4 linked regions of the Homo sapiens genome follow. The protein of the gene in region 3 interacts with the protein of the main gene of each other region in a pairwise test. Each region holds a gene or a part of one and is shown on either strand. Other genes may lie near its edges.

The links.
Region 1: the proteins of AQP2 (region 3) and PMP22 interact in binary tests that used the Homo sapiens proteins (3 or more experiments, as listed by UniProt).
Region 2: the proteins of AQP2 (region 3) and ERMP1 interact in binary tests that used the Homo sapiens proteins (3 or more experiments, as listed by UniProt).
Region 4: the proteins of AQP2 (region 3) and PANX1 interact in binary tests that used the Homo sapiens proteins (3 or more experiments, as listed by UniProt).

What each region holds. Positions count from the first base shown.
Region 1 is NC_000017.11:15,234,327-15,242,457, forward strand, and holds part of PMP22 (peripheral myelin protein 22), read right to left. Parts: intron 5,286-8,131; coding exon 5,145-5,285; intron 3,556-5,144; exon of another isoform or gene 3,459-3,555; intron 959-3,458; coding exon of another isoform or gene 921-958; exon of another isoform or gene 893-920; intron 1-892. UniProt on the Homo sapiens protein: Might be involved in growth regulation, and in myelinization in the peripheral nervous system.
Region 2 is NC_000009.12:5,822,474-5,830,604, reverse strand, and holds part of ERMP1 (endoplasmic reticulum metallopeptidase 1), read left to right. Parts: intron 1-5,385; coding exon 5,386-5,513; intron 5,514-6,603; coding exon 6,604-6,709; intron 6,710-8,131. UniProt on the Homo sapiens protein: Within the ovary, required for the organization of somatic cells and oocytes into discrete follicular structures.
Region 3 is NC_000012.12:49,953,348-49,960,120, forward strand, and holds the end of AQP2 (aquaporin-2), read left to right. Parts: intron 1-786; exon of another isoform or gene 787-807; coding exon 808-972; exon of another isoform or gene 973-1,001; intron 1,002-1,282; coding exon 1,283-1,363; intron 1,364-2,051; coding exon 2,052-2,261; 3' UTR 2,262-5,531; downstream 5,532-6,773. UniProt on the Homo sapiens protein: Forms a water-specific channel that provides the plasma membranes of renal collecting duct with high permeability to water, thereby permitting water to move in the direction of an osmotic gradient. Plays an essential role in renal water homeostasis.
Region 4 is NC_000011.10:94,124,028-94,132,655, reverse strand, and holds the start of PANX1 (pannexin-1), read right to left. Parts: upstream 3,816-8,628; 5' UTR 3,344-3,815; coding exon 3,163-3,343; intron 1-3,162. UniProt on the Homo sapiens protein: Ion channel involved in a variety of physiological functions such as blood pressure regulation, apoptotic cell clearance and oogenesis.

The sequences.
Region 1 (8,131 bases), on a different chromosome or scaffold from region 3:
CAAATTAAAGACTTCAAAGTGTACTTTGGTAACCTCGCAAAAGCACTTTCATTTGAGAGCCTGGGGCAGAAGTCAGAGAGAAGTTGGCTGGAAAGGGATGTCAGTGAGACCACCAGGGTGGTCACTGGAAGGTGCAGCTATGATGTTGGGTTGATGAGTGGGTGCCTTTTTCTCCCTCCCACTTCATCCTCAGGGCAACAAGGGAGGGCAGGAAGGGGCTGTGAGGCCTGTTCCTCTGAAAGCAAGAGACTTCTCTGTGTTTCTGTGATTGAAGCCCACTCCTTTTACATTTTCAGTATCCAAATGACCATTGCTGCCTAGAAAGCCACCCATAGCATTGACTCTGATTTGGGCATGGCCAGTGAGACATCCATAATCATCCGTCCCTAACAAAAATTTCTAAATGTGGTATTTGACTTAAGCCACCTTTGAATCACTCTGAACAGGATGGCACTGAACTTTTATTAATCCCCCCCCACCAAATTCTTTTTTTTTTTTTCCTAGAGAGGCAGGGTCTCACTCTGTCACCAGGCTGGAGCAAGTGCAGGGGCCTGATCATAGTTCACTGTAGTCTTGACCTCTCAGCCTCAAGCAATCCTCCTGCCTCAGCCTCCTGAATAGCTGGGACCACAGGCGTGCTCCAAGGCACCCCACTAATTTTTAAATCATTTTTTGTAGAGATGGCATCTCGCTTTGTTGCCCAGGCTGGTCTTGAACTCCTGGCTTTAAGCAATCCTCTCACCTCAGTCTTTCAAAGTGTTGGGATTACAGGCATTCGCCACCACACCTGGCCCAAATCCTTTTATTTTAAATGCTCTATAGCTATATTGATCTTTCTATTAACAAAACAAATGAACAACAATAACAAAAAGAGAGAGAAAGTGAAACTCACTCAGGAGTCCCCTCTATTCTTTCTGTTCTTAATCCCGGTAACCACACATTTGACTTGAGTTTGATTCTGCCGAGGAAACACAATTATCTAATCATCCAACCAATAATAGTTTTATTCAGGCTCCTCTATGTGCCCCACATGGAGCTTGATGCTGGGTGTAAGCAGTAAAATAAATCAAAACGTGCAAATCTTCCTTTTAGGTCTGTGTCTAGATTAATTTCTTGATGTTTTCCAGTCTAGTGCAACCCAACCCAACAGATCTTGTCAAGGAATAGATGGCTATAGGTTCTGAAAATAAGAATGACTCCAAAGTCCAGACGCAGGATCAGGATGTTCCTTCTCTAAGAAGGTGGTTTAGTTATTTCTGGGAAAATATCCTAGAAAACCTTACAGTGGGATTAGGGACAGTTTAATGGCTATGTCAGTGGTTCCCAACCCTAAATGCACATCAGAGTCACCTAGGCAGTGGATCCATCCCACAACTATTAAATGAGAGTCTCCAGGGATGAGACCTGAATACTGTCTTTTTTCTTTTCTTTTTTCTTTTTTTTTGAGACAGTCTTACTCTGTCACCCCCAGGCTGGAGTGCAGTGGCATGATCTTGGCTCACTGCAACCTCCACCTCCTAGGTTCAAGTGATTCTTCTCTGCCTCAGTTTCCCAAGTAGCTGGGACTACAGGCACGCACCACCACGCCTGGCTATTTTTTTATTTTTATTTTTAGTAGAGACAGGGTTTCACCATGTTGGCCGGGCTGGTCTTGAACTCCTGACCTCAAGTGATCTGCCCACCTCAGCCTCCCAAAGTGCTGGGATTACAGGCGTGAGCCACTGCGCCCCGCCCACTGTCTTTTTTTTTTTTTTAAAGGACCTCAGGTGATTCTGATGCACAGCTCAGGTTGAAAGCACTGAACTAAAGGAAGGAGCCTTTTGATATGCATTCAGGAAGCAGCCAACCTAATGCAATCAAGAAGAGATAGTTCCTAACTGTCAGCCTTGTGGCTAAGTGAGGAAGAGATAATTTGGCAAACCATGGAGACCCCACACAACACACAGAGCTGTAATCTAGAGCAAGGAGACAGACAACTCCCAAACCTACAGTCAGCTCCAAGAGCCCTAGCACCTTTCATGTGCTTTTCCTGAAAGCTGATGTGTGCCATCCATAAAGATCACAGCTGGGCCCACCAAGAGGAAGCTGTGCAGAGATAATGCAGCCCTCACAGCCACTTCCGGAGACTACACAGAGATTCTAGTGGTTTCCACTTAAAACGCTCCAGTGCATTGGAGAGGCATTTGCCGGGCATGCACGCTTGTAGATTTCACATCCCATGAGTGTGGAGCTACTTTCTTCTACCTTCTGTTTGTCAGTTTTAGCTTTTCTGACTACTTCCTTGATGTTAAGTTGTCACTTGCCAGGTTTTCCCAAAACGTGGGTTTCTCATCTCCAACAACCCTAATCTACTTAGCTCTCTAATTACTAACTTCTTACTAGTCTGTGAGTCAGAAAACCACATGACAAAATTGACTTAGAACTGTCACACGATAAGGGAACCAGGAACTCTCCAAATAGAGTTCCTAACTCTTTCAGTTCTCAGAATTAGTGGAAAGATCCTGCAGCCATTTCCAGTGCAACATCCTAGAGATCTGAGGTTCCCTGGAGACCAACTCTCAGATGATCTTGACTGGGATTAACAACGGAGGACAGGACACTCTCAGGACTTACAAATTACAACTGCTATTACAGCTCAGCATTTCAAATTCAAGATAATTTCTTATTCAAATGTGGACCAACAGATAACTGAAAATTCAGTTTCATGAGACGTAAGCAGCTAGATGTAAAGGGGATAAAGAGGACAAAGTCATGCGCTTTTACATTCGGAATTCTGCACTTCCAGCACAGTTCTAAACATCTTGTATTGACTTTGGAGGAGAATGAAAATAGTGAAGCAAGAGTGGATTAGTAAATATACTTAAATCGCAATACCTAGGAGAAGAGTGTTTGGCTGAACTGAAATACTTTTAACACACAGTGCAGTTACATGAGTGACTTAAGGGTTCTTATCTCTGGACTTTGAGTTTTGGCCTAAAATGATGTAATGATGTTGCTAAAAAGACATTGTTAAAGAACTTAAAGCCGAAACAGCTCAGCAGGATGAATGAAGATGAAGGTACTGGCTATCCCAAGGAGCCCATTCAACAGCAGCTTACCTCTTCTCAGCTCCATATTTTCAATGTGACTGGGTCTTATAGTACAGGCTTGTATTCATCACAGATGTTTGGAACTTCAGAATAATACATGGTGCAAATTTGCATTTACCTTCCATTGTAAATCAGTTCCAATAAAAGATAATATAAAAGGCAGAGCTTCTGCCTTGGATTTTGTGTTCTTTAAATTTTTTGGTGCATTCTGTCTTTAAAATATAAGAAGTACCTCACTATATTCAGTGTAACACTCAACCGTCCCTGTCATGAGCTGGGTGACCTTGGTCATTCATTTATCCTCTGGTGGGCTCAAATTATTCATCAGTAAAATAACGAGCCTGTACAAATAAAATGTAATTTTTTTCACATCAGATGGGTAACGTGCCAAATCATAACAAGGTTTGAGCGAGGCACATCTCACACATGGGCATGAAAACCCAATCATCGCTTATGAAACTAACATTTCAATAGAAATACATTATGAAAGTTCTGGTTCTAAATCCATATTATCTTGAGGGCATATCCACTGATGCAATGGATATGATCATTATTTGATTTGATATCAAACTAAAACGAGTGAGAAAAAAAAAAAGAAACCCCAGAATATGTTACAGTTGTTTTTATTCCAACTGAAAATTGAGTAAGGGTAACTCTTCACTTTAACGTACCTAGAAATGATATCTCCTTGCATAATTAGTCATTTAACAGAGCCAGCAACCATCCAGGAGCTTGGCTTGGTGTCATAAGACATGTGTAAGTAGCAAAGCACTGTCTGGTTTTGAAATCTCAAAACCATGAGTATTGAAATGTTGTATTTGAGTGTTTAATGAGAAGTGGTTAATCATTTACTTCCTTTTTTCAGGAAAGGGGAACTCTCTGTCTTCTAGACAAGGTCACCAACATCTAACCTTGGGCTGTGTCTTCCCATACAACCCTATTTACGTCAACCTTCCAATGACTGCTCCTGGGGACAGAGTGGTGAAATGGTACCATGGGCATTCTGACAACCAACTCAGAGAAGAGATGCTACATCCTTTGCCCTCTCAGAGGGTCAGAATTGAGAACATCTCCCAGTACCTAGACATACTCTGGTACATATGAAGTTTGTGATCTATGAATTTGGACCACAGAATCCACCACTACATCTAGCTCTTACTTCTCTCCAATGCCCTGCTGGTTCAGTCAACAGTAAGTCAACAGACAGACATGTAAGAGCTAATGTAAGATGCTAGGCAGAATGCAAGATGTAAGATGTAAGATGTAAGATGTAAGCATGTAAGATGCTAGGCAGAATCCAGAGACAAAGTTGGAAGATGTCACCCTGTGTAACAGAAGTTTCTAGGACTCTGCACACTATGCATATTAATAACGTATTTAAAGAGGGAACTTGAAGACAGTTTAGGCAGGAGATTAAGGAGACCTCTCATGTGTTTTCATGTGTTGTCATAGCCCCATGTTTGGAAATGACAATATGTGACACAAGAGTGTCAAAATGAAGACACCAGAGGATGACAACAGTCAATCAAAGCCCAGTAGAATCTAGGAACTGGAAGCAAGGAAGGTGAGAATTTGTCAGTGTGGCTTCATCACTACCTATTGGTGGAAGACACATACCTGATAACTACTTTGCTAGTTCTTAGCACATCAGGGCCATTTTCTGGAGGCATAATGTAATCTACAGAAACAGCTCTCAAGCCTGACCTTTGCTCTACAGATAGCCTCAGTATTCACCTCTGATTATGTGTCCAGATTGCAGTTTCATTCCTGTTGATACGCCTGGCTTGGGTGGGGACCTTCCTTCCAGATCCTCTAAGTTCTCTTTCATATGCATCTCATTCCAGGGAGAAGGGGAGAGTTCTAAGTCCCAAGTTCTAAGACACATACAGGTACACACCCACACATACAAGCACCCACCCTCACTTTATGGAAAGCATCCAGTGGGGAGACTCATGAACATCAGTCATTCTGAGGCCACATCCTTCTACTAAACTAATCATTCCGCAGACTTGGATGCACCCCGCTTCCACATGGACTTTACCATCCACAACTTACCAGCAAGAATTTGGAAGATTCCAGTGATGTAAAACCTGCCCCCCTTGGTGAGGGTGAAGAGTTGGCAGAAGAACAGGAACAGAGACAGAATGCTGAAGATGATCGACAGGATCATGGTGGCCTGGACAGACTGCAGCCATTCTGGGGGAAAGAGACACTTGGTTAGGAGAGCTGGCCATGGCCGGGGGAGGGCTCTGCCTCGAGGTGCAGGGCCTGAAGGGCCATGACTGCTGACAGCACAGTCCTCACAGGCAGCAGAAGCAGAAGTCCTTTTTCCTTAGCAGAACTCAGACAATTCACTTTTGCAATCTAAGAAGACATTCTTTATTGTTTATTTTGGAGGAAAAAATATATACATATATACATACATCTATATGTACTGATATATACATATACAAACACACACATGTGCCAATATGTACACATTACATACATATATACCTATATGTACAAATATGCATACAAATATGTACGTGTTTCTATATATATGTGTATATACACATATACAAATACGTGACACACACATATATATAAAAAACACATGTGAACATTCAGGGAAGGGCTGTAAAAAAATATCTATAGTTCCATCACTAGGAGTTAAAGTCATTTTAAAATATATTGAATTTCCTTCCAGTGTTGGTGCAAATGTGTTACTTATGTACATGTGTCTGTGTTAAAGAGGGCCTGAGCCCTGCCTACTACCTTCCCTCTTCTTGCCCTCAGGGGTCTTTGAAGGGCTTATCAGAACTTCTGTATTCCAAGAAAAATAGCTTAAAACCACTATTCAAATTATCTGCATTCCCCAAGGAGAGGTAAAGATCACGGGAATGGCTGTTAGAGCCCAAAGTAATTTTTTGGAAGAATGGAAGAAAATACTGATGAAGAAAGGTATGCTCTCTATAGGTATGGAAATCAATTTGCTTGGACAACCCGTATTTTTTTTTTTTTTTTTTTTTGGTCAACTCTGATCATGGCCATTAGCCTCAGCACAGAGCGGTGTGTGATCGCCAACCACCAGACGGGATGAAGGCTTACACTTCCTTATCTCTGTTGAACCCCAAATCTCCAAGCTTCCAACTGAAATTCAGGCAAGAAGACAGAGCCTCCTATGGTTTCTTCAGTTCACCATCCGCTGCAAACTCATGTCATTTCAGGGAGGAAAGAAGAAACAACCTGAGTTCCACACTGTAGAGGGAAGCCCAGGGTAAAAATCTGCATTTGGCCTCTGTCTTGTCTTCCAAGTGCCACAGAATGCTGGGGGCAGGCACTGCTCTCATGGAGGAAGGGCAACTGGGGAAGCTGCAGCATTTAATCCTTTCAGCTCAGTAACTGCCATATGTAATGGCTTCAAAAGCATACCTTCAATGCTTCACCCAGTACTCACAGCTCTGAAATCTGGATGGTTTATAATTAGTAACTGAGTAAGATAAACTTGTTTTGAGTTGTAAGCAGCTCATGGCAGAATTTTAAGGGTGCAAATTAGGTTAACTGTTCCTAGATTTTCACCTAAGATGTTTCCAAGGCACAGACTGGAGATATTTTAGAGTTGGAAGAAACCTGAGAGATCAACTAGTCCAGCTCCTTTGCACTGAAAGAGATTTCCAGAGGTGTTTTCATGAGCCCAAATGACACAGCCAAATCTAAGAGGCCTTTGATTCTAGTCTAGCACTCTTCACATTCAAGCACAACATATGCTTCTTTCATTTTTTCAATTTCTTTGTCAATTAAAGTAAGAAAATGACGGCTAATGGGTTGTGAGCCATCCTGATTTCACTCTTACATAACCTTAATCAAATGTTTGTCTTTATCCAGCATAGAGGTTCTTCTGGAGGAGCACTTTGCAATAAAGATAATGTTCTCATAATATTGTTTGCTTAAAATAAAAAAATTATCTAGCACTTTGGTAGATGCAGCTGGAATTACAAAGAAATCTGAGACTCAAATCTGAAACTAAAACAAATAAAGGGATTCACTTTGGCTGGGAAATGTCCTTCCATGTGCATGTTCATGAGGAGTATGGCTGGTGGAGACAATATCTTAGATTTCCTTCTCCAATCCTGAGATACTGTCTTCACCCTTAACCCCGCGCCCCTGTCATTTTCAGCAGAAACTACTACGAGACCTCACATACACAGAAAACTTAAAATCTTTATATGTTAAATCTATATAAACAGAAAGTGTCTAATATTTAATAATATAACCTAAATACTTCTTGAAACATCTTTCAACATTAACTTGAATTTTAGTCCCAACCCCATTACAATTGAGCTCTTTGCCATAAGTTATTTCTCGAATCAAATCAGAATTAGAGGATCAAGGACATTTTTATTCAATGAGCATTTGTTGAATACCTACTGCTTTGAGCCAAGCCCTCTGGTTGACTCTGATGATCCAGAGATGAAGAAGATGGTTTTCAACCATAAGCACAATAAATAAAACACATGCATTAAGATAGTAAGTCTATCATCAACCACATTATATGTGAATGGGTTCAAGGCACTCATAAGATATGGAATTTTATCTTTGATTAAGACATTTTGGGAGGCTGAGGCAGGTAGATCACTTGAGGCCAGGAGTTCAAGACCAGCCTGGCCAACATGCCAAAACCCCATCTCTACGAAAAATACAAAAAAATTGGCCAGGTGTGCTGGTGGACACCTATAGTCCCAGCTACTTGGGAGGTTGAGGCAGAGAATCGCTTGAACTCAGGAGGTGGAGGTTGTAGTGAGCCAAGATCACACCACTGCACTCCAGCCTGGGCACAGAGAGAGACTCTGTCTCAAAAAAAAAAAAAAAAAAAAAAAAGAGAGACATTGTAGCTATATTCTAATATAATAGATACACCTAAAACAAGCAACAGTCAAAAACAAAAAAGATTCTGAAAAGAAGCTTCAGGCAAATGTTAACAAAAAAGAAAGAAGATAAATTAATAATAAAAAATAGAACTTATGTTGAAAGGATAAAAGTGGCCAGAGAGTTGTTTGGTT
Region 2 (8,131 bases), on a different chromosome or scaffold from region 3:
TGGAAAGCAGGATAATTAGGATAGTATCATTTAGTTTAGGATCTAACCATTCTGTCTTCTCTTAAGTGCTTTATTAATATTATTTTTTGGTGTTAATGCCAGCAGCCCAGTGATAAGACTTGGAATGTTTCTGGTAGACTGAAGCAGCTTTCTCAATGTTACCAGACAGTGTGTGTGTCCTAGTGTCCTGGAGTTAGGTTCTGACACTTAGAAAGTGTTTTACTCAGCTGGGTGTTATACTAGGCTTTGGGGATACCACATAAGGACAGTCCCTGCCTTCAAGGGTTACTGCATGGTTTTAGAGCAGGGGTGTCCAATCTTTTGGCTGCCCTGGGCCACATTGGAAGAAGAAGAATTGTCATGGGCCACACATAATATACACTAATGATGGCTGATGAGCTTAAAAAAAAAAACTCATGTTTTAAGAAAGTTTACAAATTTGTATTGGGCTGCATTCAAAGCTGTCCTGGGCTGCGGGTTGGCGGATATCTCTTCTAGCAGATTCTGTTGACCTATAAAGTGAGAATTTTGCTCCACTGAGGGTGCCATACTGTTAAAGTACCTAATTAATGTGTAAATCTTTCTCTGAAAATCATTTGGCAAAATAGAATACTTGCATTTAGGACAGTGCCTGATGCAGTATATATTTGTCAAATGAATGGGAATCCCCTAAATTGAACTTCCATTTATTAAAATATTTATTTTTCAGAAAATTGTATTCAGTGGTTAAAGGGATTGTAAATAGGGATGGAAAATAGCATTTACAATGGCATAGCATTTTAGTGGTAGACAAGACCTGAGATGGCATCTGGCTGAACCCCTCATTTGATACAGGAGTACATTTAGCTAGCTGGTCATCGCTGATCAGAGACAAAACTAGGATAAGATGCTGGATTTCCTGGCCAGTCAGTTCTTTCAGCTACATTTGAAAGGAAAAAGAATATTAGGGTGTAATTAATACTCCCTTTTGCAAATTGCTTAACTTCTTAGTTTCTCATCTGTGTAATGGAGAAAATAATAGTACTTTCCTAATAGTGTTGCTTGGAGGATTAAAAATAAGTAAAACGCTAAAATAGTACCTGGCATGGAAAGTGATTTTTAAAAGTTTTTATTAACTCTTATGTAATATTAACACTTCTGGATTACTCGAACTTATAGCAGGCCAAATTTGAACGTCTAGAGTTATACAAAATGTAAGTAAAATTTATTTGCTTGATAAAATGATTCATATTAGAATATCTTCATTTAGAAAGCTTGACAATTGCGTTTAGAATGTAACTTGCATTTTCAAAAATCAGTATACACACGTTTGTTAAATAAGCCAGAAGTACCTTCGTGTGCTGCTGGGGTAACCAGTGGTTTAGTGTTTTTTTTTTTTTTTTTTTGGCTGGGGGGCCAAGTCTCACTCTGTCACCAGGCTGGCATGCAGTGGCACAATCTTGGCTCACTGCATCCTCTGCCTCCCGGGTTTAAGCGATTCTCCTACTGTGCCACCACACTCGGCTGATTTTTTTTGTATTTTTGGCAGCGACAGGGTTTCACCATGTTGGCCAGGCTGGTCTTGAACTCCTGACCTCAAGTGATCCGCCTACCTCAGTCTCCCAAATTTCTGAGATTATAGGTGTGAGCCACTGTGCCCGGCCACCAGTGGTTTTTTTATGTCCATTTCAAAGCAGTAATAAATGTCACTCTTTGCCCACTATTATGATGCTTAAATTCTGGGAAGCGGCAAATAAACACCATGGTTGCTTAAGAACATTATATAAGAAGGCTGTATATACAAGAATTAGCAGCAAATGTAGGGACAAAAGAAAAAAGTTTCCCCTCTACCCTTCATAGTTCTTAGCTGAGTGGACCCCTGTAACAAAAGACAGGTTAAAAAGAGAAAAACCAAATAGAAGTTTATTAACACATGCACTTCATGTACATGGGAGATACTCAAGGAAAATGAGTACATCTCAAAGAGGTGGCTTAGAAATCTGGCTTATGTAGCATCTTCAACCAAACAATACATTTTTAGAGAAGTGACAAAGGAAAAGGACCTTGAGTCTCGAGGGGTGGCAAATTGAAGGAAGGCAAATAAATGGTAGAGAAAGGTTAGTTAGTAAAGTGTTATATAGATTCCTTTTGTGCTGTTGCCAGGCCACCAAAAGTTTAAAGTTGTCTTTCTTGATCAACCTTTGTACTTCCTGGTGGAAAGGGGAAGTGGGGACACCTTGGTAAATGTATACCCTGCTTTTAGGCAAACAAGGGGAGGGCAGAGAGCTTTTTTGTATAGTACCTGCTTCTCAGTTGCCTTCAGCTCAAAATAATCCGTATGTCAAAGTGACATATTTTGGAGTGCATATTCAGTTACTCTTTACAAACATAGTGCCAAATGTTACAGATTGTATATGTGGAGTCTAATAATTAAAGGCCAGCATTTTTGTGAGCCATTAGAACCCACTTTTTATTATTATGTTTTAAATAATAGAGACAGGTTCTCACTTTGTTGCCCAGGCTGGTCTTGAACTCCTTAAGTGATTATTCTACCTCATCCTCCCAAAGTGCTGGGATTACAGGTGGGAACCACTGTGCCTGGCCTAGAACGTACATTCATTCATTCATTCACTTATTCATTTATTTATGAGGCGGAGTCTCACTCTGTCGCCCAGGCTAGAGTGCAGTGGCGCGATCTCGGCTCACTGCAAGCTCTGCCTCCCGGGTTCACGCCATTCTCTTGCCTCAGCCTCCCGAGTAGCTGGGACTATAGGCGCCCACCACCATGCCTTGCGAATTTTTTTTTTTTTTGAGACGGAGTCTCGCTCTCGCCCACGCCAGACTGCAGTGGCGCTATCTCTGCTCACTGCAACCTCCGCCTCCCGGGTTCATGCCATTCTCCTGCCTCAGCCTCGCTATTTTTTTGTTAGTAGAGATGGGGTTTCACTGTGTTAGCCAGGATGGTCTCAATCTCCTGACCTCGTGATCTGCCTGCCTTGGCCTCCCAAAGTGCTGGGATTACAGGTGTGAGCCACTGCGCCTGGCCCTAGAACCTACTTTTAACTAAAATTTTATAGGAATACCCTTAGCAACAATCTCAAGGCAATTTCTGTCAATAATAAATTGTTAAAAATAGTGTTTCACACATTCATCAAATAGATTAAGCTTGTCCAACCTGCAGTCCTGGGTAGCTTTGAATGTGGCCCAATACAAATTCATAAACTTTCTCAAAACGTGAGATTTTTTTTTCAATTTTTATTTTATTTTTTAGCTCATCAGTGATTGTTAGTGTTAGTGTCTTTTATATGTGGCCCAAGACAGTTCTTCTCTTAATGTGGCCCATGGAAGCCAAAAGATTGGACACCCCTGAAATAGACTATCACCTAAATCCTTTTAGTGGATGGCCTAATTGAAGCACTTCTTTTTTCTTTTTTTCTTTTTAAGTTCTCATCTGTGTATCTAGGACTCAGGAATTGATACCAATTAGGAGTAATGTTATCCACAGAAAAGCCTTAATTATCTTCTTGAGTTTGCTGTGTGGTTCCAGGTCGTTGGTAGAAGAGGCATTGAGTTATTTTGGGGGTGGCTTCAATTTCAAGGTTAATTCTAAATGGAAAGGGATGTCAGCTAACCACCTAGCCCTTATAGATACTGTCCTCTTAACTTTCCTTCCCTTTCTTAAAGATATTTGACTCTTCTGTAGTTCTCTTTTAACGCACCAGAACCATTAAAATAAGGGAAGCTGAATGGACAGTTTAACTTTTTAATCAACCCTGTATAGATACCTTTCAATTTCCCTTTCTCTCTTTTTGAATAAAGAAACATTTTATTGTTTGCTCTCTATTTTAAAGTAACTCACAGTGTCAAATTAAAAAGAGAGTTTATTTCATTAGGTTTTTGGAAGGTGACACATTTTGCTAATAGCAGCATTTTCTATTTGATAGTAATTAAATGATTATTACTTTGTTTCACTTCGATTGAAATACAAACCAGTAATCACCACCAAGACAAGTATGGTTAATAGGTAATTTCTTCTTAAGTAGGAATGGGGTCTGGAATTTAACAGAGCCCAAACAAGCATTTTAATTTTAGCTAGCTACAGAGCCTTCCTCAGATTTGCAAAGAGAGGGAAAAATGAACATTGAATACCTACCAGGTGCTAGGCACTGGGCATTATCTTGTGTGACTCTTAAACCTGTGAGGTAGGTATCATTAGCTTGCTCTTTCAACCAGGAAATAGTGGAGTAAAGTGACAGAGCTCAAATTTACTTCCAAATCTTTCTTGCTCTCAAATCCACGCCAAACTCTTTGGCACCCTGCTTCAAATGTGTAAACCCAGAAATGTTACTGCCTGAGTTACGTTAGTGCTTATTTACTTTGATTACTCTTTAAGTTTTCTGATATGGAAAGTTTCAAATATATTCAAAAGCAGAATTGTTTAATGAACCCCAGTGTACTTATCTCCCAGCTTCAGCAGTCTGATCTTGTTTCTTTCCTACCACTACCCTCCCAACTTCTTGATTATTTTGAAGCAGATCTTAGCTATATCAGTTCCTCTCTAAAAGTATTTCACTCTGTGTTGCTGGCAGATAAGGGCCCTTTTTGATACCACCAATTGCCTCACCTAAAAAAACCTAACAGTAATTCCTTGGTATCATCAAATATCCAATCAATTCCTTTAATTGTCTCTTACAATGCTTTAAAAAAGCAAGACAGTTAAGTCATCTTTATAGTTACTTTTAATTAACATACAAAATTTCTGAATCAAGAAGAGGTTCAGAGATTCAACTGAGTGTGTGTTCTGGGACCTAGGATACTACTTAGGTCATTAGTCTCCTTTCCTGTGACTTACTAGATTAGGTATCTTCTTTTTAGTTTTCCATCACATAATCCCCTTGGAGAAGCCTTAAAGGAATGTTACACCATCCAAAGTGACCTCTCTGTGCAGCTTTTATGATTTTGGCAGGAAAACAAGCAAGAAAGGAGTGGGTGCAGTGGGAGATGATGCAGGAAGCTGTGAGCACCAGAAGTGAGACTATTACAGAGGATGTGGAATACGGGTAAAGAATAGAACAGATTGCCTTGGTTTGCTGAGAATACCAGTTTCCAGTATGACTTTAGGTCCCCTCAGGTTACTTCATTTAGCAGACACTAATTGAGTGACTCTGGTGGGTCAGGCATGGTAGTAGGCATTGAGAGTAAGTCAGTGAGCAAACCAGACAAAGATCCCTTCATGGAACTTACTGCTGGTGGGTGTGATTGTCACCTGATGATGACAGAGCTATGCTTCTGGTCATGCAGCTATTGTGATGCTTCTCTGAGGAGAAAGCTCCATTCCTAGTCCTAATGGGTCATATTGTAAACATTTTAAAATCTGAGCAGCAAATTTGTTTTTCTGATTTGAAGGTGCCAGTGATGATGCAGTTAGCTGCTCAGTGATGCTGGAAGTCCTTCGCGTCTTGTCAACATCTTCAGAAGCCTTGCATCATGCTGTCATATTTCTCTTTAATGGTGCTGAGGAAAATGTCTTGCAAGTGAGATTTTACTGTTTTAAATATCAGGCTTGAATAAGGATGAGATTAATAATAATAGCTAAATATTATTTACTAAATAGTAAATGCATTTTTTATGACTCCTGTGGGTAGTATAAAATAATATGCAGAAAAATACTTTATGAGCAGTACTTTAACAAATTCACAACCACTTATGTAGAGATGTTTAATATTTGGAAAACTCCACTTAGCAGATTATTGTGGCAGGATTTGATTGAGAGAAGGGCTCTCGCTGGCATAATTACTCTCCTCAGGTTTTCTTTGACATTGAAGTTTCAGAGATGTTTTGAGACAGGCACAAATAAATGCCCAGCCATATGGATCGTCTCTTCTCCTGTTCTCTTTTTTTTCTTTCTTTTTAAAAAGAGAAGGGGGCCAGGCACGCTGGCTCATGCCTATAATCCCAGCACTTTGGGAGGCCGAGGCAGGCAGATCACGAGGTCAGGAGTTTGAGACCAGCCTGGCCAACATGGTGAAACCCCGTCTCTACTAAAATTACAAAAATTAGCCAGGCGTGGTGGTGGGTGCCTGTAATCCCAGCTATTCGGGAGGTTGAGGCAGGAGAATCGTTTGAACCTGGAACGTGGAGATTGCGGTGATCCGAGATCGAGCCATTGCACTCCAGCCTGGGCCACAGGCTCTGTTTCAAAAATGAGCAAACAAAAAAAGAGGGAGTCTCGCTATGTTGCCCAGGCTGGTCTCGAACTCCTGAGCTCGGGTGATCTTCCCACCATGGCCTCCCAAAGTTTTGGGATTACAGGTGTGAGCCACCGTGCCTGGCCCTCTTTGCCTTTTCTTTTGCACAGCCTTGTACTTACCAGGGATGTTGTTTGGCACCGCTGATGGTCACCAGGCTGCCTTCTGTGATAGGTGACTTTCCGAACCTGATGTGCATGGCCATTATGCATAGGAAAAGAAGCAGAAGATGTCTTTGGATACTGCCTTTGAAGAGCGATTATTTTGTTTTCATATTCCTTACCTCATCAAAGTAGTCTCTCTGTGTTTAAGCAAAATCAAGACTGATAATTTAAGATTGTTTAACAAATATTTGTTTTCTTTCCTTCTCTTTAAGGCCAGTCATGGTTTCATTACTCAGCACCCCTGGGCTAGCTTGATTCGTGCATTCATTAACCTAGAGGCAGCAGGTGTAGGAGGGAAAGAACTTGTATTCCAAACAGGTATGTGAGATTGTGCGTTGTATATTTTAATGCAATTCTAGTTTTTGTAAAAGTAGAAAGTTTTTGATTATAAATAATATCTTCAATAAACAGTCTCTTGAATGAGCATTCTTTTTAAAGCATGAGGTGGTGTTAGCTTGTCTTTGTTAAAAATTTTGAACCAAATAATGCAGCATCTAACACTTGTATAGTGCTTATTATATGCCAAGTGTTGTTCAAACCATTTCATATATATTAAGTCATTGAATCCTCCAAACAACATGTAAGATAAGTACTGTTACTTCCATTTTAGAGATGAAACTGAGTCCAGAGAGATTATAACTTGCCTAAGGTTTCACAGTTGTTTAATGGCAGAGTGTGATTTGAACCTAGACAGTCCGGGTCCAGAAACTTTGTTCTTAACCTCTAATTGGATTGTTATATAGGTAGTGAACTTTTAGCCACTGTGGGTGGTTATGATATAAATATTGTTAAATGTCAATCATTTCATGAGTTAAAATGAGAAAATTTACCTGTAGTGTATGTAACAGGTTTAAATTTATCATTGATTTAGTGGAATGTTAAAAAAATTTAGTAATATTTAATCAGCCAGAATAATTTTTATTTTATTGTTTTTTTAGAGACAGAGCCATGCTCTGTCACCCAGGCTCGAGTGCACTGGTGCCATCATGCAGCCTTGACCTCCTGGGTTCAAGTGGTTCTCCTGTCTCAGTTTCCTGAGTTGCTGGGACTGCAGGTGCTTGCTATCACGCCTGGCTATTTAAAAATTTTTTTGTAGAGACAGGCTCCCATTATGTTTCCCAGGCTGGTCTCAAACTCCTGGGCTCAAGTGGTCCTCCTGCCTTGGCCTCCCAAAGTGCTGGGATTACAAGCATGAACCACCATGCCTGGCCCAGAGAAATAGTTTTAGTTTTATGATTAAACTTTTCTAAGGATATCAACTTAGCCTATTTATGCCTAGTGTTCCATTATTGGAACGCTAAGCATGTGGGAGTTATTTATATCCTACTGCTCAAGCCTCATCGCCAAGGTCTGATTTTTCACACATGCAAAAATTAAAAAAATTGCAACCTCAGGCATAAATGGGTTTTAATTGTCTTTATTAACAAAATTCAGAGCTCATAGATTTTTTTAGTGGGGGCATACTAAAATTTGACATTGGAAGTTCCATTCCATTTCCCTGCCCTGTTAGAAATTTGGGTAATGCATTTTATCCAGAGATGTAGCATTTGCTAGATGTTTTAATATTCAAGAGTGTGTTGTGTGCTGAGATGGGCTAGGTGAAGTAAGATGATGTGGGAACTTGTTTTGTAGCACCCTCTTAAGACCTGATTTTATTTAAATTATGAAACTATGCTAAGTATGTCTTCATAACCTAAACAATACTATATTTTAATAGTCTCCATCAAACTTATTTTAATC
Region 3 (6,773 bases):
GGTACAGGGTGACAAAACCCAAGGAGAAATCCAGTGCTGGGTGCGGCCCAGTTATGAAATCACCTCTTTACTCAGCCCCGAGTTCTCTCCTTACCCAAGGCAGGGTCTGCTGAGACCATGGGCAGCCTACATGGGTGTGGAGGCATTGTCCAACACAGCTCCAGGGCCCTTACCCCAACCTCCATAGGATGTGCAGGGAGCAAACTAACAGGGCAAACCTGAGGCCTGAAAGGCAGTGGGGAATAGACAAGGGTTAGGGAAAGAGGTAGATTCCGGACTCATAGCGGAAAGGGGCACACTAGGACTGTCCCCCAGACCCAAGTCCCTAGACCCTGTCTCTGGGAGCCATTTAACCTCAGGAAGAAAGACCACAGGCCTCTCATTGCACCAAGGTCTGATGGTCTACAGACAGAGGAAGGTCTTCCTGCTAACCGGCCCAAAGCTTCCTGAGGCAGTTGAAACCTCTTCCCTTCTTGTTCTTTGGGAAACAGAAATTCCGGATCTCAGCATTCTTTTCCTCTCATACTGCAGGCTCCCAGCCTCAGGCCCCAATCTAATGGGCTACAGAGTCAGTTTTGCTACCTCTGGCGGGGGGACCATGGGCATCCTGGGGGATCAGGGGCTGCCTTTGGGCCAGGGCCCAGGAAGAAGGGATCAGTCGTTGCAGCTAAGGCGTCTGGCAAGCCCAGGTGTTCCGGCTCCCAGCCCAGAGGCCCCCTGGTGCCTCGACTGCAGGTGGACAGGAAGATGGAGCCAGAGAGGAAAGTGGGCTCAGTGTTCCCCTACCCGCCTCTTCTCTGTCCCCAGCTCAGCAACAGCACGACGGCTGGCCAGGCGGTGACTGTGGAGCTCTTCCTGACACTGCAGCTGGTGCTCTGCATCTTCGCCTCCACCGATGAGCGCCGCGGAGAGAACCCGGGCACCCCTGCTCTCTCCATAGGCTTCTCTGTGGCCCTGGGCCACCTCCTTGGGGTAGGTCATGGCCATGGGTTCCAGCCTCCCTGGAGGAACAGACACACAGACCACTCCAGAGACAGACACAGAGACCCCAAGAGGGACACATACACAGAACTCTCAAGAGGAACAGACACCCCAGAGGTTTGACTCCTAGATACCCCAGAGGGACAGATATCACTCCAGCCCATCTGTAAATAAAACGTGATGTTAATTGTCCATCACGTGGGTTCCCTTTAGGCTGAGGTCAAGCACTGCAGTGCGGGACAAGGACTTCCTGCCCTGTCCTCACCTCCCTTCTCTCTTTGATGCCCTCCTCCCACTGCAGATCCATTACACCGGCTGCTCTATGAATCCTGCCCGCTCCCTGGCTCCAGCTGTCGTCACTGGCAAATTTGATGACCACTGGGTAATGGCTGAAACCCCCTGCCCTCCCCTTCTCTAGAAACCCATTTTAGAGGGAGAACAAGAGCTGGAATAGCATGGGATGGGGGCTCAGCAGCGGTACCCCAAACCCTCCACACTCCTCCTGGTCCTGGGGAGCCTTGGGTTCCACCCCTCAGATCTGATGCCAAAGACTCAGTTTCCACGTCTGTGAATGAGGATGACAACAGCTTACCTCACTGGCTTCTTGGGAACAGTAAGTGAGGTTACCGGTGTAACCCAGATAATGCAGTGTCTGGCACTTAGAACTCTATAAGTGGTAGTATTTAGCACTTATCTGGTGCTTAGTATGTGGTGAGCCTTGTTCTGAGTGCTTTGCAAACATTAACTCAGTTTTCACAACCACCCCAGGAGGTAGACATTCTTAGAGTGAAAGGCACAGAGAGGGTAAGTAACTTGTTGAAGTGCACACAGCACTTAAGTGGTGGAATCAGGACACACACAGGCAGTGGCTTCAGAATTCGCACCCTTAACCCCGCACTGACAAGGCTTCCCCAGCAGCTGGCGTTGTCGTTGTAATTACATAAATAAGCATTTTACTAGATTAATGTCGGGGAGGAGAGGTGCGGCCGCAGAGTGTGCCGCCGGGGCCTGCGGGCTCCGCGTGCCGGTGCCGGCGCGGGTGCCAAGCCGCCCTCTCCGCTCGCCCCCAGGTCTTCTGGATCGGACCCCTGGTGGGCGCCATCCTGGGCTCCCTCCTCTACAACTACGTGCTGTTTCCGCCAGCCAAGAGCCTGTCGGAGCGCCTGGCAGTGCTGAAGGGCCTGGAGCCGGACACCGATTGGGAGGAGCGCGAGGTGCGACGGCGGCAGTCGGTGGAGCTGCACTCGCCGCAGAGCCTGCCACGGGGTACCAAGGCCTGAGGGCCGCCAGCGGCCTCTACGGCCCCGACGGACGCTTGTGAGGCCCGAGGCAGAAGGGCCCACCCCGTCCCTCCTCTCCCGCAGGTCTGAAGTTGGCCCCCCAGCGCAGAGTAGCTGCTTCCTGGACGTGCGCGCCCAGGCCAGTGCTGTGAGCAGGCGGGGAGGAGGCTGCCGGAGGGAGCCCTGAGCCTGGCAGGTCCCCTGCCCTGAGGCTGTGAGCAGCTAGTGGTGGCTTCTCCAGCCTTTTTCAGGGAACTGGGAACTTAGGGGACTGAGCTGGGGAGGGAGGCAGGTGGGTGGTAAGAGGGAAACTCTGGAGAGCCTGCACCCAGGTACTGAGTGGGGAGTGTACAGACCCCTGCCTTGGGGGTTCCGGGAATGATGCAACTGGTTTTACTAGTGTGCAAGTGTGTTCATCCCCAAGTTCTCTTTTGTCCTCACATGCAGAGTTGTGCATGCCCCTGAGTGTGAACAGGTTTGCCTACGTTGGTGCAAGTGTGCATGGCTGGGGACTTCTCACTTCCCCTTGCACCCCTTCCTCCCCAACCTGCAATAAATCCGCTTCTCCTGCAGTGGATGAGTGTGGGTGCCAGTCCTCCTCAGGAGAAGGGGAAGGGAAGGAGGCCACTTTGAGAGGGCTGAAGGGAGGGCCTTGATTTCCAGCCGCAATCTGGCTCCTCCTGGAAAATTTCCCCCACCTGCAGCGCTGGGCCCCAAGGCTTGCCAAGACTCATTGCTGGAGGTAGAGAGGTGTCAACCAGAGAACAGCTCCCCTAGACATGGCCTCTGGAAAAAGGAAATCTTTGGTGGCCAAAGATTTCCTTTCTGTGGTGAGGGAGAACCTCTCCAAAGAGGAAGCAGGCATATGAGTGCGCACGCCTTCACGTGTGTGTATGCTGTGTGTGCCCGGGACCCCCGTCTCCAGGGGTGCCCCAGACCCAGAGATTAGCCTCCCACTTCGGCGCAGAAAACAAAAGCCCTTTGTGGGACCCGGGCCTTTGTCTTGGGTGAGGGGAGATTTGCACCTAGACACTTCTTGAAAGGAGACACTCAGTTTCACAAGTGAGCCCTCTTGCCCAGCACACACCTATGGCTGGCTGGGCAAGGCGCTCAGGCATGCAACCATGGGCACCAGGCAATACCCATCCATCACCCATCTCACTCTCCCCAGTCCTCAGGCAGCAGCTTTTCCACCCCAGGAATCTCTGTTCCTTCTCTGTCTGCCTCTCCACAGCCCGTGATCCCCTGCTTCTGGCTCCTACCACTGGACAGTCATTGTGGATAGAGCAGCCTGCTGCTCTCAGGACCAGAGAAGGGAAATGACTTCTCCAGGCAGAGGCAGATCTGAGTCTAGAACCCAGGCTTCTAAATTTCTAGGCCAGTACTACTGCTCTCAAAAGAGATTAACTGGGATTAAGTGAGATGACGCATGTAAAGATGCTGTGTAAACTGTAATTCTTAATACCATTATCACGCATTACTAGAATCATTTCATTATTTCTGCTTCCTGGGGGAAGGATGCAGAAGGAGTCTGATGCTCAACATCCCTTACCTCCTTTCGTTGATGGCCAAAGCAAAGGAGAGTCCTGGGAGCCCACAAGATCCAGGCAGAAGGAGATGGGTTTGGGGCTGGCCCCATCCTGGCCCAGCCTCTTAACCTCTTCTTACCCTGAATGTGTGCCCTATCTTTTCTCCCACCTCCTTCCTCCTACCACCCAGCCCTATCCATTCTCTCCTTCCCTCTCCAGCCTGCTGTATAAGTAACATGTGGGTCATACCTTGAACCCCCCTCCGCCCCCATGCTCTCTGTGGCCTCCATGCCTTCAAGACTTCTGTCTGTATCTATCTCACACTGCACCAAGCACCCACTGTGCACCAGGCACTAAGTCTCTAGCCTCTTTCTCCCTTCTGCTCCCATCCAAGAAAGACAGTGTATAAGGAACATCTCTGTAATTGTGTCCCCTCTCATCTATGCTCTTTCCTGTCTTCCTTGACCAAAGCTCTCTTTGAGGTCCAAAAAAGGCTGCCCTGGGCCATATGTGCTATGGAGAGGACTCTCCCAAACCCCCAATAGCTAGTGACAGCCACTTGGCCTCACTACCAGAAGAAGGGTGGAGTCAGAAACCAAAGTGACCTCCAGAGCTGTCCTCCTGGCACCTGAGTGTCCTTGCTCTAGAGGTTCAAAGGCAGCAAGGCAGTGAGCTATGAGCCCAGCATGGATGTGTCTCAGGCACCTCATCCCCACCCCACCTCACCCCAACAAACTCCTCTAGAAGAAGCCAAGAATTTCTCTCTATGTCTGTTTCACTTTTTGGATTGCATCTCCCCAAAAACTAAATGTGAAATCCCTACCATTTCTAGCCTCTATTGCCCAGATTGGAGTCAGAGGTCAAAAAAGGATTCCAAGTGATGGAACTCCAGGGGTGGAGGGAAATTGGCAGTTCCTGGCATCTCTTGTGTACCAGCTGCTGTGCTGGGTGCCTTGCATGCACGGACTTATCTGATCTTCCTCAAACTTCAGATAGGTTAGGGAAGGACAAAGGCCCCCAGCCATGAAGGGTTTTGCTATTTCCAAAGCTTCCCCTTATCGTCCCCTGTGATTATCTCCCAACCCCGTGACAAAGGTAGAGCAAATATTGTTCTTCCCATTTTACAGATTCAGAAACCAAGGCTAAGGGACTGGTCTAAAGTCTCACAGGTAGTATATGGTGGAGCCAACACTTGAACTCAGACCTTTTTACACAAAATCCCATGATTTTTCCACTGAGACAAATCCTAGGCTCCTGGGAGGCCCTGGCAGAAGCCAGAACACATGGCTGGGCCTTTCCAGCCCAACCCACTGTCTTGCAGTGGACGGAGAGCCTTGGCGAGGGCAGCAGGGTAGAGAGGACAAAGAATGTGGGGCTGGTTTCTGCCCTTTAAGAGCACCCGGTCAGTCAGAGAACAGAGATCACACACACCAAACCAGACAGAGGCAGGGCAGCATGGAGACAGGTAGACAGACCTCCAGGTCCCTAAGCTGGGGACAGAGAAGGTTCTGAGCTGTCCCATACTCCCACTTTGTGCCAAATGACTTTGCACCTGCAAATGGTGCTTCAATGTCGTTTTGTATCTTTAAGCTGTGATGTTGTATATATACAATGCCTCCCAGCTAGACTGTAAGCCCTTTGGGGACAAGGGCTGCTTCCAGTTCTTGGATGGCGTTCTCCTATCTACCTTCCTTCAACTGCTCTGCATATAATAAGCACTCAATAAATGCTCATTTGCCAATAAGTACTGTTTCTTCCACAACTTGGCAGTGGTAATAGAAATACAGCCCAAGGTACCAGAAGACAGGCGGAGCTCCCTACCACTTCTACCCCAGCCCTCAACTTCTCCCAGGGAACTCAGAAGTCCCCATATCAGGAGAGGAGGGGAAGGGCTCTCCCTAAGACATTCAAATTCCCCCTGCCACAAATGGGGAGACCCATCACTCAGCTCACAAAGGTCCCGGGCATTCCTCTGGAGCTGCCAGGGCAGGGCCTGAGTGCTTGGGCAAAGAGAATTCCGAGACATAATGGGAGTTTACTGTGATGACTTGAGGACAGAGGGACTCTAGTGGTTAGAGAGATGGAAGAGCCTAAGACACAGGCCCTAGGAAACAGAATCAGCTGCCCTGTGTGAGTAACCTTGACAGATGAAATCTCCTTCTTTGGCCTCACCAGGCCCACTCCTGATGACCAAGTCTATGTGGCGACCTGTGGTTCCCATCTCAGGTCACTGTGTGACCCTAGGCAAGTGACCTCTGAGTCTGGGTTTCTTCATGGGTAGCTTGGAATCAAATCACACAGTGGAGGCCAATTATAATCTCTAACTTTGTAGATTATATTCTGAATCTCTAAAATGGCAAGAACAAGGTCTTGGCCTTTATAGTCCCTCATTAGTTCAAATCTTCAGGTCGGAGCTTCCCCTGGCAGCCAAGCCTCTTGTGAGCACTTGTGAATCCTTTCATTCTGAGATGCTGGAGTTTGAGACCTGTGGACTATGAAGACAGTGCCTGGGGAGAGAGGATGAGAAAGCAAGTGAAAGGGTGCGAACTGGAGGCAAGTTCAGCAGCAAAGGAGCCTGGCCCCCAATGGCCTCTGGGGTCATCAGGGTCATTGTCCAGCCCAAGTCCCAGGCCCAGAAGAAAATCCTGCGTACAACTGGCATGTACAGCTGGCATGATTGGCTGGGGACAAAGCGCTGGGACCCATGGAAGAAAGGACAGACTGACCTCCGGCCTTAAGAGGAGAGACCTGGGGGAGGAGCTGCTCCAGCAGGAAATGCCAGAGCTGGGCAGGAACAATAGCGGGGTTTCTTTAGCCCTTGTTTTCTTTGGCATCTTAGCTGCCACAGAGCCCAGAGCCCGCTCCTCCAAGTCCTTAGCATTCCTGCAGGCTCCTCCCCTCAGCCCTGCCTGACAAACTGACAGAGGAGGCACCTGTTCTCTACTTCCTCTGCACCCTCCCGCTGGACTCTTCCCCCTAGCTT
Region 4 (8,628 bases), on a different chromosome or scaffold from region 3:
AACATGTAATTACAGCTGATTTTCTCGTTTCTAATTTTATACACACACACACCACCCCCCCAACACAAACAGGAAAACAATGGGATTTGCTATGCCTTCTTTCATGTGGAGCCCCTGGACCCTTACTTTGGCTCCCACCTCTCCATGTGACGGTGCCACTAAAGCTCCAGCAGCCACATGTTGTCTCACACGTCTCAGCTTCAGCCAACACTGCTCCACACACTTGGAATCCTGCCTCAGGGGCCAACTCTGCCCTGAAACTCTCACTGTTCATGAGTCAGAAGAAACCCCTCCTTCTGCCTTTCCACAGCATCAGGCTTTAGTACACACTTCTGACACTGCCCAGGTTCCATGAATCCTGCATTAGGAGGGTTATGCGTTCAACTTCTCTACTAGACCGTGCTTCCAGAGGAAAGATTCTTATGTCCTACGTGTGTCTGACACCCCATTGCCAAGGTACAGCATCATGCACATAACAATCAATTAGCAAGGTCTGATGATGCCAAAAGCTATCACCTTTAATTCACAACAAATGTTTATAGAGTAGTTTCAATCTCCATGCAAAACATGCATAGACAGGTTATAAAGCTCTGTGTTAAGTTCAACAAAAGAGTATTCCAAGCACCAGAGAGGGAAGCAGTAATTATCAACAGAGGAAGGATGAAGCCATGTTTTAAGTCTGCAGGCCTTATCTCAGTGTCTTCCCGGGGCCTGAGTTCACTGGCCAATATGGTGGGCAAAGTGCCAGCTCCATTTCAATTACTTCATTCTCCCTTTATTGCTGTTCTTTTTTTTGGTTTGTTTTTGGCTGAGTGCATACTACTAACTACACAAAATTAAATGCTGCATGACATGATCCCTCCCACTGTACCAACTCCATGTATTAATCTATGTACCTCTCCCCTCTTCTCAAAAGCCCTTCTTCTGGTTTTATCTAAATGTATACCTAATCTAATAGGTCTTCCCTGGTCCTGTTAGCTTCATCCCACATGTCTGTCCTCCCCTGGAACTCCTGAAAACACTTCAGAAAACATGGGAGTCTGCTTGACAGCTCCTCACCCAAGTGCCTGCCAACCTTCACCAGCCTGGAGCTCATAGCTCAACACCTGGCTGGGTGCTGAATTACACACAGCTGAATGACTTACCTGCTAACAGATACCTTCTAGTGCCCAACTGCATAGTAAACTGCCACAGGGCAGGGAGAGGGCAGGGCAAGAACAAGGTCTCAAAATCCTTTCCCATCTCCCTCAGCACACAACAGTGCTATGCACACAGCATGAGCTCAAACTCTTGCTAGTTAAAACCACTCCCAATACCCCAAAAATACCTCTCAGACAGCCCACCAATTTAGACGTATCTAAGGCATTACAGGTACAGGTGCCTTAGGAGTCCCTCTAGTACATGTGCTAGAGGTGGAGATTGGTCACAGAGGGTGACTAACTCCTTCCTCCTGCCTTTCTGTCCCAACCAGGTACCCAAGACTTGCACCTCCAAGACAGGGATCATGCCTCTTTTACTCCCGGGTCCTTGGAGGTCAGCACCGAGTTCAGCACACAGCCAGTACTGAAGGAGGAATTGACCAAAGGGAGAGATTATCTCCAGGACTCATGCTACTTGGTGGTTTTGCTTTCAGCTGGAAGCCTCAATCCACTGTCAAATGGAAACTTAAAGAACATCCCGATGACTATGCCTGCGCAAAGAGCAGGAAAACTAAAAACTATTTTCCACAATGAATTTGGCAACTTCCTGCCAAGCTGAACAACTTAGTGCTGCAGATTGCAAAATCACACTCATAGTCATTCTTTCCTAATCAACTATTCCCTCAACTTCACAATTCCCATCACCACCAACACCACACTCCACTCACCCAGACATACAACCTCCGCAGCACGTTTGACCAGTACTGCCGTTCATGGCCTATTAAATACTAGGTACTCAAGTGCTGCTTATTTACTCCTTGATCGCACAGCAATCACCCACCCATTTTCTTCCACTCTTCACACCCTCTGTGCACAAGACCTCAGCCGATGCCTTGCTCTCTGGCACCCAGCCCTCCAGGCCCCATCCTCTCACCTTCTTCCCAGACCCTAAATGCCACCATCATTCAACCAGTCTGTCCTCTGCTCAAACAATAACTTCACAGTTCTGAAACCATCAGCCTACACTCTTCTGTTCCAGGCTGACCCAGGCCCATATTCACTCTCAGACTCCAGGAACTCTGACTTATCCTCCTGCCTTGGCTAGGAGAGTCACTGTGTCTCTCTTTCCAGGAACATATAACATTCTCTGCCATCTCAAAACCTTAACAAAGGTCTTACTCCTTCTTGTCCAAATCCCACCCACCCTCTGACAAAAGTTTTCCCAAAGTCCAGCCGCACTGGGTCCTCTCTCTTCCCCTGCCACAGAACTGTATTTAACCCTCCTGCGCTACCTTCCTGTTGGTTCATAAACACTCTCTCCTGTGTGGAGAGTCAGAACAGCTGATGAGGAAGGTAAGGCACGTAGCCACGTGATCCTGCCCAAACCACCAGACTTTCCAATCTCACACAACTGTTATGAAGCTCAAATGATAATTTACAGGAAGGGGACTTGTTCATCTCACATTTGTAAGACCGTCCAAGTTGAGGATCCCTCTAATGCCTGCCAAGTGCAGATATTTCCTATCATTCACAACCCTAGAGAGCTAAGATCTCAGCAAATACCAATTATATGTAAGACACTGAAAGAACACACTTCTCATGGAGCACCGGTCTTCACATCCTCCATGTAGCCACTCAGGAACTTCTCTGGTGTAAAATTTTAGGCGGCTGGACAAATATGTAGGAGACAGGGGTGAAAAACGGGGACACAGCTATTCTTGGCAAATCTGGTGGCAAGGTGCCAGTTCTAAGGGTGGAACATAAACTATAAGCCACAGTCCGATCAGAGGGGCATGAGGAACAAAAGAACTGAGGAGTAGGGATGCGAGCAGAGTAGACCAGGGTACCAATGAAACACCTGGGCAAAGAACGCTTTGGACCATAAAACTGGGGCCACTGCCCTTCCTGACGCTCACGACCATCACAGCTGGGCGTACCCAGACTCGGGCCTGTGAGCCGTAAAATCGCAGCTCACCGGGCCAGACCGGGGCGGCCACTCCCCTCCGTCCTGGGCGAGGCTTACCAATCGAGATCTCCTGCGCGAAGGCCAGCGAGATGAGCAGCAGGGGCAGCCCCACCGCAATGCACGTGACCATCTTGTCCACAGCCAGCTCCAGTCGCAGCCCCTTGAACTTGGGCTCCGTGGGCTCCTTCAGCAAGAAATCCGAGAACACGTACTCCGTGGCCAGTTGAGCGATGGCCATGGCTGCGGCGCGCCAGGCTCGACCAGGAGGTCCGGGTACAGCCGGCGTCGGGAAAGCTGCGCGGCGCCTTCACCCAGTCACCGGCCGGGCGCGCGGCTTTCGCTTTCCCTTTGCCTGCTCCCGCATCCCGCCTGCCTTTGTGTCTCGGTGCCTCAGGCTCCCAGCGACTCCGCTGGGCTCTCGCGCTCGCTGCCTCCGCCGCCGGCGGGGCGGGGCGGGGCGGGAACCCGAGAGCTCCGCTTCCTGCGGTTCCACCCCGCACGCCCGTGCAAGTCCCCGGGCCGCGCGCGGCACTCGGATTCGCGCCTCTCCCGCGCACCCCCAGGCGCGGGAACCACGCGCGGAACAAAGCGCTTCCCTCTGGCCCTGCCCCTCCGCGCCGCCCTGGCTGCCGAAGCGGCCGCCGGGATAGCCCTGCGCTCACAGCCAGCTGCGCCGCGCTCTTCCGGAACCATGCGGGGAAACCAAGTACCCAGGGGCGTGGAGCTTCCGGAAGACGCGGTGACGCGGGGCGGGGTGGGCGCGGCTGCATTCCGCGCCCCTCGGGCCACTCTCTGACAAAGGGATTTTCCCACTGAGCGGCACCTTTGGAAATTCTCCCGTCCCTCCCTGCCGGATTCTCCTCACGTCCTGGCACCCGGGAGTTTTAAAATCATTTCTGCAAGCGACTCTTTCTGTGGATGGGATGGCCCCCTTTACGCCCCACCCCCAACATTTCCAACACGGTGAAATCGGGTTAGAAGGAGCTGCAAAAGCTTCAAAGAACAGTCAGTGCCATAAAAGGCCAATCGAGCGGTGTAGACCGACGGTGCCTTGCAGAGGGAGCGCTGGACCCTTCCAGGAGCTCCGCGTGAGAGGGTGGCGCGGAAACGGTAGTGAGTGTGGAGTTTCGAGGCCTGAGTAGCGCTGCTGGTCCCGTTTCTCTTTCCTCTGCCATCCCAATCAGAGCCTTGTTCCGGGAGCCAGCAGAGAGAGGGGGGCCTGCAGGTAGGTGGGTGTTGGGGCTGCAGAGAGCTGCTTCTGAACAGCTCATAGGAAGTGGATGATGGAAAGACAGGAGGAAATACTCTGACCAGTGTCCACGGAAATTAAGGCTGTTGAAGTAGAAATAATTTGATTTATTGGAAGCTAAATGTGAGGATCCACCCAAGAAGACTTACCAGCAAAGTTGGGCATGTTTCAAAATTTGTTACACGTTGGAAGGGTTTTAGAAGAAAGTTTAGGAAAAGGGAGGAGGACCCCTTATATCAGAGGTGGGATTTTTTTCATCGGAGGGTATGGTACACAGGTTACAGTCACTGGCTGCAGATGACAACATACAGGCTAAAATGTTTTGTGCACAAGAAAATCAAAGTTTATATGATTCAGAAACAAGTCAGTGTTCTTTTCAATGTCAGTATTTTACATACTAATCAGTACATCAGCAGTTTGAGGAACTGACAAAAGGATTTGAAGGACTCACAGTAAGATTTTTTACTCAGGGACAGGATCTAAGCCATGAATCATAAGACCTTTCTTAGATGGCTTAGTTTGGAAGCCCTGTCAAATGTGACATGTAGGTTATCACCAGTAACATTTGAAGCAGGCAGGACCTGCAAACATGAGGGCTCCTTGGGGCAGGGCTTGGCTCCCTTCTCTGTGGGTCCACAGATACAAGCCTCAACTCCCACATGTACCTCTCCACCCCAGCCTGGCCGCTAAACACACATCCAAGAGCGTATACAGCTCTCTCCGCGTAGATGGCTCATAGGGCTTCAAACTCATAACGGCCAGGACTTCAGTCTTCATCTTCCCCTTAAACCTGAACTCCATCTTCCCCATCTTACTAAATGTACCACCAGCCACCTGTGCACCCAAGTCGGAATCCTGGAGCACCATCTTCAACACTCCATTTCTCACAGCTGCCATAACCAATTTTCAAATTCTCTTGCTTCTCTCTCCTAAATATAGCAAATCTGACACCCCTCCACCTGCACTGCCAATACCCAATTCAACTCACCATCCTGTCTCCTAACCACATATAGGAAATATGTGAGACAGGGTCCCCCTCCATTCTCCTCTACAGCTGCCAGGATGAGCTTTTCAAAACTCCAGTCGGATCATCTTTTCTACTTAAAGTGTACATTGTTTTTAGCATAAAATACAAATTTCTTAGCATGGCCTCTGCCTACCTCACCACCAGCTTCACTGCTTTCCTTTCAGTTCTTCAAGTTAGCTAAGCCCTTGGCCTCCTCCAGGCCTTCCCACCCAAAACACTCCCCACAGTGGCCTCTTTGCCTGGCCCACCTTTATTCACCCTTCTGGCCTCAGCTTGATGTCACTTCCCTGGGAAAGCCTTCCCTAAGTAGACAGACTAGATTAGGTCCCTTTGTGAAATTCTCCCATAATACTAGCCACACTAGTTACTAGCTATTAGTCTTGGGGAGTTCTTTGACTCTCCTGTGTCTCAGTTTTCTCATCTGTAAAAAGGTTGTACCTCTTAGGACTGTGATAAGGACCAAATGAGTTAACACGTGGGTAGTGCCCAGTGCCTGGCACCTTGTGAATCTAGGTACATTTCATCTGTCATTGTTCTCTATTTTTCCTTCTTAAAAATAGTCACCATTGCAACTCAACAAATATTTATTCATTTATTTAGTGTTTGCCACCACTTTATGTGATCGGCTTCTTGAGGGTAGGCCCATGCCCATGTGTACCACTTTTATCCTCAACACTTAGCACAAATGCCTCACACAGAGTTGATGTTTTAATTCATATTATTAAATAAATGTCTGAAGGAATCTGAACACTTTTTAAAACTGGCCCAGTTCACACTCATTTATCCATACATTCCAGGCATATATTAGAGGCTGGTGATGGGCCAGTTCTGGGCTCAGTGGATGGGGAAGCAGAAATGAAGTGAATGGATTCCATTTCCTCAAAGACCTTATGGCTTAGCAAGAGAAATAAGGCATGCACACAATTAACTATAATGCAAGGTAGAAAGAGTGATTATTGTGAAAAGTGGGGTATACCAAGGGAGGTGCAGAGAATAAGTAGGGCCTGGGAGAATGTGTCAGTTGGGACATTCAGAGCTGGGACAGGGGCTTTCTGGGAGTCAGGAAATCATGGGTGCCATTTCCCTTCTTTCCTTGCCAAAAGCTAATCATCCGATAGGCTCAAATGGCCCCTTTTTAGGCTCAAATGCCCCCTTTTTAGGAAGCCTTCCAGGATCCTCCAGTTGTAATGAATCCTTCCCTCCCTTGTTACTCTCTCCTCTGGCCTAGAAGTTAGTTCATTTTGCCTCCTGTGATGGGATGATGGATTGTGTATCTCTTTTTTCATTACATAGCAAGTTCCTCTGAGGATCTGGAGTGAATCTCAGCAGTTGCATAAATTGCCCTCAGTTTTGGCAATTTTTTACATTCCATATGATGTTATCCTACTTTTAATGAATTTAAAATAGAAGCCAGATGGAGAACTTGTTGGAAAATAGTGTGTCCGGAATTGATTCCTTCTGGTGGGTTCTTGGTCTCACTGACTTCAAGAATGAAGCCACGGGCCCTCGTGTTGAGTGTTACTGTTCTTAAAGGTAGTGTGGACCCAAAGAGTGAGCAGCAGCAAGATTTATTGTGAAGAACAAAAGAACAAAGCTTCCACAGCATGGAAGGGAAGCTGAGCAGCTTGCCGCTCTGGTGGCCAGCTTGTATTCACTTATTTGGCCCCGCCCACATCTTGCTGATTGGTCCATTTTACAGAGCGCTGATTGGTCCATTTCACAGAGTGATAATTGGTGCATTTACAAAACTTTAGCTACACACAGAGCACCGATTGGTGCATTTTTACAGAGTGCTGATTGGTGCATTTACAAACCTTTAGGTAGACACAGAGCGCTGGTTGCTGTGTTTTTACAGAGTACTGATTGGTGCGTTTACAAACCTTTAGCTAGACACAGAGCACTGATTGGTGTGTTTACAATCCTCTAGCTAGACAGAAAATTTCTCCAAGTCCCCATCTGACCCAGAAGCCCAGCTGGCTTCACCTCTCAATCCCCCCTCTAAACAGGACACCCCAACTGCTGTTGGGAATTGGGTGATGACTGCTCTAGCTACTTCCTGCTGGATAGGAGCAAAGAAGGGGCCCTGCAGTTGTAGTATCCTCCAGAGGGGAACTCTTTAGGCCAGTGAAAGGACCAGCGGGTCGGTCCAGGGGTCCTCGGTAGAAGTTGTTAGTTGAGCTCATTTGGGGTTCCATTGGTAAGACCATCTGTAGCTTGATGGCCTCGATCCTAGAGGAAACAAATTTAACAAGGAGTTTAAAAATACAGGGCCCGAAGGCAAGTAATAGTAAGATGGCTGCCATGGGACCTAGAAAGGGGAGAAGCCATGTTGCCCAACTCCAGAGGTTGGTATAAGAGTTTGAAAGGCATTGTCTGATTTTGGAAGCCTTTTCCTGTAAACGCCAGGTGGCATATCATACTATCCCTGAATGGTTAGTGTGAAAACAACACTCTTCCCCTAAGAAGGTGCACAGTCCTCCTTTCTCAGCAGTGAGGAGGTCTAGGCCTCGGCCGTTTTGGAGAGTCGCTGCTGCCAAAGAGTCTATTTGGGATTGTAGAATAAGGATAGATTTCGTTATCTCTTGCAAACTGTCTGAGAAATCCTTTGAGAGTGTGTGGTAGTAGGATAATGAAGTAGATAAACTGACTATTCCGGTTCCTGTAGCAGTAGCCATTCCTAACCCCATAAGTAGGGGTATTAGTTGTATGGCTCTGCACTAACAGACTTGAGCTTTGAGGGGTACTGATAGGGTCTGATTTCCTGGGGAAATGTTAATGTCGGGACTTAGAAATACTAAGGTGCAGGTGCCTTCCAGTTAGTGGGGTGGCAGATATAGTTCAACATTCCACATAAGAAGAATATACCTTGGCTGGGTAGACAGAACTGGTTGTGTATGTTATAAAGGTGTGTGAGTTTATTGTTTTCATTTTCCTATACTCCTAGAATACTTGCCAAGATAGCTGCTATGAGTGGCTGGAAAGGGGTGTTGGGAGCAAACTGAGTGGCTCCCTGTGTTCTATTTTCCCATTGGAGAAAAAACCATTTTGTATCTACTAGGAACCATTCGAGAGAGCGATTGAAAGAGGGGATGAGATGGCATTCACTAGTGGTGGGGATACTGCTGCAGGGGGTCCAGGGGTGAATGGTCATGCAGAGAGTATGTTTGCCATTACAAAACCTGGACTGTTTGTTAAGCAGGGAGGAGGTGATGATTTTGGGGGCCCCTGAGACGTGGACAAGCCGTCT